2 linked regions of the Homo sapiens genome follow. The protein of the gene in region 1 interacts with the protein of each later gene in a biochemical or structural test. Each region holds a gene or a part of one and is shown in the gene's direction. Other genes may lie near its edges.

Evidence for each region. The genes of interacting proteins can lie anywhere in the genome.
Region 2: of the proteins of ST13 (region 1) and F2, one has a biochemical effect on the other in vitro, tested with the Homo sapiens proteins (one study listed by BioGRID).

The regions. Positions count from the first base shown.
Region 1 is NC_000022.11:40,832,640-40,836,139, reverse strand, and holds part of ST13 (hsc70-interacting protein), read left to right. Parts: intron 1-252; coding exon 253-337; intron 338-469; coding exon 470-580; intron 581-3,468; coding exon 3,469-3,500. UniProt on the Homo sapiens protein: One HIP oligomer binds the ATPase domains of at least two HSC70 molecules dependent on activation of the HSC70 ATPase by HSP40. Stabilizes the ADP state of HSC70 that has a high affinity for substrate protein.
Region 2 is NC_000011.10:46,736,213-46,740,006, forward strand, and holds the end of F2 (prothrombin preproprotein), read left to right. Parts: intron 1-2,835; coding exon 2,836-2,906; intron 2,907-3,052; coding exon 3,053-3,196; 3' UTR 3,197-3,294; downstream 3,295-3,794. UniProt on the Homo sapiens protein: Thrombin, which cleaves bonds after Arg and Lys, converts fibrinogen to fibrin and activates factors V, VII, VIII, XIII, and, in complex with thrombomodulin, protein C. Functions in blood homeostasis, inflammation and wound healing.

The DNA.
Region 1 (3,500 bases):
TCATACTAAGAATGTGCTATTCTATTGTTAGTTAGGGGCTTACGTACTCAGAAATTGTCTTACCTCGTGAGTTACAGTATAGGTGTGGTAAGATTTGCTTTCAAGAGCCAGTTTTAGTATAACTTAGTTGTCTTTTTTATTTTTACTTGATTAAAAGAAAAATGTAAAAGACTTAACTGGATAACAGATCAAAACTTTTTATTAATATTTTTATCCTCTGAATATTTCTCGATAACTTTTGTTTCACTTTAGGTGAACTCCAGAAAGCCATTGACTTATTCACAGATGCCATCAAGCTGAATCCTCGCTTGGCCATTTTGTATGCCAAGAGGGCCAGGTGAGAACTCTAAACAGAAAAGCATCCCCTGGCAAATAATTTCTGCACATTTGTTTAAATAGAGTTGCTTCTGTGTTGATCCCAAAACTTTTACTGAAATGAATACTTTTTAATAACACACTTATTTTTCAGTGTCTTCGTCAAATTACAGAAGCCAAATGCTGCCATCCGAGACTGTGACAGAGCCATTGAAATAAATCCTGATTCAGCTCAGCCTTACAAGTGGCGGGGGAAAGCACACAGGTAAATAATTGAATTTAATTATTTTCAGAACTCTTTACATTTAAATCTGATGTTTTAAGATGCTTTGTTTAAACAAAAACACAAAAGTTCCTAATGACTTAATTTTCAAATTAGTGTGTACTTAGTATCAAGAAGTGAGATAGCTTGTAGACAGCTGCTTAAAAGGTAAAAGAAAAAAAAAAGAAATTTAAAAGAAGAAGTGAGAATATAGGAAGGAAGAAATAAAAAGTATTTTCATTTTTTTCATTCAAATAAAGCTACTCTTACCAGTTTTTGACTACATATGGCCAAATATAAGGAAAGGATTTTTACTTAAAATTAATTCCAGGAAAAGAAAGAATGATCTTTTATCAGTGTCCTTACAAATTTTCTCTTACTTTCAGACTCTGTAAGTTAGCATTGAACTACCAGTGTATTATAGAAGAAGGAGTATGCCAGCCTGAAACTACTTCAGTCACTGCTAGGCCACCTGAAAAATTAGGAGAAGGCGGGGGGGCATAAAGAGGTGAATTTAACCCAGATTAGTAATTATACCTTGCAGCAAAACTTAGGAATATTTGTATCTTGGGAATGAAGTGTTCAGTGACTTTCACATGTTACCTGGGTTGAAAGGGCTCAAATGTGGATGGAGATAAAGATGGATATGTTTTTAGGACAACTGTATTAGCTGACTCAGAGTAGCTCTAGTGGATTTTATGACACATGTTAAAGATAAACATTAAAAGTTGAAATAAAATTTATTAATGCTGTGTCAGCACAGGAAAAGCCCATGCATTGCTGTTGATCCTTTTGAAATCCCATTAGTCCAAGTATTTCTTTGCCTTCTAATACAAGACAGCGTTGGCTCATCTTGTGCTTTGCTTGTCTCAGACTGAAAATAAGCTATTTCTGTGGGAAATCGTGGTTCATTATAGCGGAAACTAAGATTTGATCACTGTGTCTGTTCATTGCTTCTGGTATGTACTGTCGTTTCAATGAACAGCTAGAAAAAAACATTTTAAAAATCATGAATTTAGGGAAAAAATTCTTGAAATTGTGAGTTTATACTGATATTTTCTATTAAAATGTAACATTAAATGTTTTGTTTTACCTTTTAGTTTGTATTTTTGACACTTGTGTGGTAAAAATTTTTGTCCTAGTTTTACATTTACTTACTACAATGCTGTGATATACATAAAACTGTTTCAGAATTACAATACCTTAAAAACAGTATACACTCTAAGTAAAGTTTGAAGGTTTTTTGGGAAGTTTTTGTTTTGCTTTGTCTTTTGTTTCTACACAGAGTCTCACTCTGTTGCCCAGGCTGGAGTGCAGTGGTGCGATCTAGGCTCACTGCAACCTTCACCTCCCAGGTTCAAGTGATTATCCTGCCTCAGTCAGCCTTCTGAGTAGCTGGGATTACTTACAGTCGCGCCCCACCATGCCCAGCTAATGTTTTGTATTTTTGGTAGAGAGGGGGTTTCGCCTATTAGCCAGGCTATTCTCAAACTCCTGGCCTCAAGTGATCTGCCCTCCTTCCCCTCCCAAAGCATTGGGATTACAGGTGTGACCCAAGGATGTTCTTATTCTTAGAATATATATCCCACTTGAAATATACAGTCAAGATAACTATGAAAAGTTACTTGAATTCATTTTTTTCTGTGTAGCTTATGTTGTTAATGCAATACACAGTGTTTTGTTTTGTTTTGTTTTGTTTTGAGGCATTTTGCTCCTTCACCCAGGCTGGAGTGAAGTGGTGCAATCTTGGCTCACTGCACCCGCCCCGGGCTCAAGCGGTTCTCCTGCCTCAGCCTCCCAAGTAGCTGGGATTACAGGTGTGCGCTACCATGTGTGGCAAATTTTTTATATTAGAGATGGGGTTTTGCCACATTGGCCAGGCTGGTCTTGAACTCCTGACCTCAGGTGATCCACCAGCCTCAGCCTCCCAAAGTGCTAGGATAATAGGCATGAGCCATCGCGCCTAGCCACACCTTATTTCTTTTTTTTTTTTTTTTTGAGATGGAGTCTTCCTCTGTCACCCAGGCTAGAGTGCAGTGGCGCGATCTTGGCTCACTGCAAGCTCTGCCTCCTGGGTTCATGCCATTCTCCTGCCTCAGCCTCCTGAGTAGCTGGGACTACAGGCGCCTGCCACCGCGCCTGGTTTTTTGTATTTTTAGTAGAGATGGGGTTTCACCGGGTTAGCCAGGATGGTCTTGATCTCCTGACCTCGCGTTCTGCCCGCCTCGGCCTCCCAAAGTGCTGGGATTACAGACGTGAGCCACCGCGCCCAGCCACACAGCTTCTTATTTCTGTTTGTATTCAGGTTTAGGATTTGCTTTATTTCCATTTTTCTGATTTTATTTTTTGAGTATGTAAAGCATTTAAATGTTCGAAGAGTTACACCTGAGTTAAAAGGTATACCCAGTGAATTCTCAGTTTTCGTTGCTGTCTCCTCTGCCCCATTCTCACCTACTGTCACCAACCTTTAGTTTCTGGTTTACTTGTTCTGAGTTTTTCGTAAAGCCTGTACACATGTATTATTTTCTCTTCTGTCTTACATAGAAGGTAGCTAAAAGCTAACACATTATGTTAGTCCTGGTTTGGGCGAGTTGAAAGTTACTGGTCTACATACTTAGAAAATTACGATATTCTGAATTAAGAAAGATTTTGTTTGTTTTTTAGCTTTTAGTAGAAAAGCAGCTTTAAATAGAGGAAATTTAAATGTTTTCAGGTTTTTATAGAGTTAACTAAAATGGGATATAGTAATTGAATTGGTTAGTGAAAGTTTATAGTTAATATTTAACTTAAGCCTGTTTTAGAACAATCCTTTTTTGTAAGGAAGAAAGATATCATGCCACATAGGTGAATATGTATAAAAGGCTCCTAAAATGAGTGTAAATCTGTTTCAGACTTCTAGGCCACTGGGAAGAAGCAGCCCATG
Region 2 (3,794 bases), on another chromosome or scaffold:
ATCAATCAATCAATCTTTGAACTAGTGATTTGAGATTTCACCTTTATCACATTCTAGATTGTATCTTATTTTCATTTATTTATTTGAAATATAGACAAGTCTCCCTGTGCTGCCCAGGCTGATTTCAAACTCCTGGCTGGGCTCGAGCAAGTCTCCCGCCTTGGCCTCCCAAACTGCTGGGATTACAGACGTGAGCCACCATACCTGACCTAGGTTTTATTTTTTAGTTTTATTTTTTCCTGCATCCAGCTAATTTGATTTGATTTGTAGAGACGGGGTCTTGCTATGTTACCTAGGCTGGTCTCGAACTCCTGGGCTCAAGTGATCCTCCTGCCTTGGCCTCCCAAAGTGTTGGGATTACCAGCATGAGCCACGGTGCCCAGCCCCACGTTCTAGATTTCTATGGATAGAGTATGCTTAAGGATGAGTATGTTTCTGGATGTTCGACTCGGCTTTCCTGGTCTGTTGTCTGTCTGTGTACAGCGTCACATTGTTTTAATGATAGAGGCTTTAGCGTACATAGCTGGGAAGGCTAATGTTCTCTTTTAGTTTTTCTTTCCAGTGGTTTCCTGGCAATTCTTGCATGTTTGTTTTTCCATATGAACTTTAGTGTCAACATGCCTAGGTCTATAAAAAAGCTTGGTGGTAATTTTATTGGGATTATGACACTTCAACAAATTAACTGGGAGAATGGACATATTTTTGATGTTGAGTCATTTTATCCAAGGATAAGAAACGTTTTCCTATTTGCTCAAGTCTATTATTGTATCTTTCTTGACTGCTGCAATGTATTCTCTTATAATTTTTTCTATTGGTATCTTATTTTATGTATTTGTAATATCTTATTTTTCTTGAGTAAATTAGTTAATGGCTTGCCGGTTTTCTCAAAACAAATATCTAGGGATTTGATTTATGAAATTATTAGGCCTATTATTTTTCTTTTTTTTGAGATGGAGTCTCACTCTGTCGCCCAGGCTGGAGTGCAGTGGCGTGATCTCAGCTCACTGCAACCTCCACCTCCTGGGTTCAAGTGATTCTCCTGCCTCAGCCTCCCCAGTAGCTGGGGTTACAGGTGCACGCCACCATGCCCGGCTAATTTTTTTATATTTTTAGTAGAGACGGGGTTTCACCATGTTAGCCAGGCTGGTCTCGAACTCCTGACCTCATGATCCGACTGCCTCAGCCTCCCAAAGTGCTGGGATTACAGGTGTGAGCCACCGTGCCTGGCCTTTTTTTTTTTTTTTTTGAGACAGAGTCTTGCTCTGTCACCCAGGCTGGAGTGCAGTGGTGCGATCTCGGCTCACTGAAAGCTCCACCTCCCGGGTTCACGCCATCCTCCTGCCTCAGCCTCCCGAGTAGCTGGGACTACAGGTGTACACTGCCACGCCCAGCTAATTTTTTGTATTTAGTAGAGACAGGGTTTCACCGCGTTCGCCAGGATGGTCTCGATCTCCTGACCTTGTGATCCGCCTGCCTCAGCCTCCCAAAGTGCTGGTATTACGGGCGTGAGCCACTGCGCCCGGCCAGGCCTATTATTTTTCTATTGTGGTTCATTAATTTCTGCTTTTTTCTCTTAAAAAGTTTGCTTACGTTTTTGTCTGGTTTACTTTGCTGTTCTCTTGCTAGCTTTTTTTTTTTTCAGATAGGGTCTTGCTCTGTTGCCCAGGCTGGAGTGCAGTGGCACAGTCATAGCTCACTGCAGCCTTGAACTCCTGGGCTCAAGCAATCCTCTTCTTGCTTCAGCCTCCCACGTAGCTAGGATCAGAGGTACATGCCACCATGTCCGGCTAATTTTTTTTTTTCGAGACAGAGTCTTGTTCTGTCGCTCAGGCGGTAGTGCAGTGGTGCAATCCCGGCTCACTGCAACCTCCACCTCCACCTCCCAGGTTCAAGCAATTCTACCTCAGTCTCCTGAGTAGCTGGGATTATAGGCGCACACCAACATGTCTGGCTAATTTTTGTATTTTTAGTAGAGACAGGGTTTCACCACGTTGGCCAGGCTGGTCTTAAACTCCTGACTTCATGATCCGCCCGCCTTGGCCTCCCAAAGTGCTGAGATTACAGGTGTGAGCCACAGCACCTAGTGAAGGTGTGGTTTTTTTGTGTAGGTTTTACTGTTGTTAGTGTTGTTCTGTATTGTTTGTAGAGGATACGTGGGGAGATTTGGATAAAAGCAACTATCATTATTATCCTCATCAGACTTGTAGGTCTAACTTTTTAATTTTTTAATTTTTAATTTAAATTTTTTTCTTGGTCTTTTATCATTAATTAATTTTTTCGAGACAGGGTCTCACTCTGTTGCCCAGGCTGGAGTGTGGTGACATGATCACGGCTCACTGCAGCCTTAACCTCCCAGGCGCAAGTGATCCTCCTCTCTTAGCCTCCCGAGTAGCTGGGACTCCAGGCATGTGCCACCATGCCCAGCTAATTTTTTGTAGAGAGAGGGTTTTGCCATATTGCCCAGGCTGGTCTTGAACTGCTGAGCTCAAGTGATCCACCCGGCTTGGGCATGAGCCACCTCCCCTGGTCTGGTCCAACTTTTTAAAAGCATTATTCTGCCTGTTGGGTGGAGAATAGACTGTAGGTGGGCAAAGAATGAAGGAAACTAGTGGGTTCAGGAGCTCGAGCTAGAAGTGGTGAGAAGGGTTTGGATTTGGGGTCTATGCTGAAGGTAGAGCCGACAAGATTTGCTAGGATTGGATGGGTAGGGTGAGGAAGTGGGGACAGCAAGAATGACTGGAGGGGTAAGTGGACTCTCACCAGCTGTGTCTCGTGAAGGGGCGTGGCTGGGCTATGAGCTATGCTCCTGAGCACAGACGGCTGTTCTCTTTCAAGGTTACAAGCCTGATGAAGGGAAACGAGGGGATGCCTGTGAAGGTGACAGTGGGGGACCCTTTGTCATGAAGGTAAGCTTCTCTAAAGCCCAGGGCCTGGTGAACACATCTTCTGGGGGTGGGGAGAAACTCTAGTATCTAGAAACAGTTGCCTGGCAGGGGAATACTGATGTGACCTTGAACTTGACTCTATTGGAAACCTCATCTTTCTTCTTCAGAGCCCCTTTAACAACCGCTGGTATCAAATGGGCATCGTCTCATGGGGTGAAGGCTGTGACCGGGATGGGAAATATGGCTTCTACACACATGTGTTCCGCCTGAAGAAGTGGATACAGAAGGTCATTGATCAGTTTGGAGAGTAGGGGGCCACTCATATTCTGGGCTCCTGGAACCAATCCCGTGAAAGAATTATTTTTGTGTTTCTAAAACTATGGTTCCCAATAAAAGTGACTCTCAGCGAGCCTCAATGCTCCCAGTGCTATTCATGGGCAGCTCTCTGGGCTCAGGAAGAGCCAGTAATACTACTGGATAAAGAAGACTTAAGAATCCACCACCTGGTGCACGCTGGTAGTCCGAGCACTCGGGAGGCTGAGGTGGGAGGATCGCTTGAGCCCAGGAGGTGGAGGCTGCAGTGAGCCACTGCACCCCAGCCTGGGTGACAGAGTGAGACCCTGTCCCAAAAGAATCCACTATCTATCTTCAGAGCAGGGCCAGGTGAGAGGAAAGATGGCAGGTTGAATTTACAGGCATTAAAGATGTTCCACCCTCTGGGTTTTAATGGATTATCTCATTTAATCCTCACAAGAGGTAGGTGAGTAAACTGAGATTTGGAGAAGTACCTTGTCCAAAGTCACATGGCTAAGAAAGCTCAAAGTAGGACTTCAAATATAGAAAATATTGAGTGAGGACGGTGCTTTTTTAGTTAACTCCCTACATCTTCCCTTGTATCATTAAAATGAT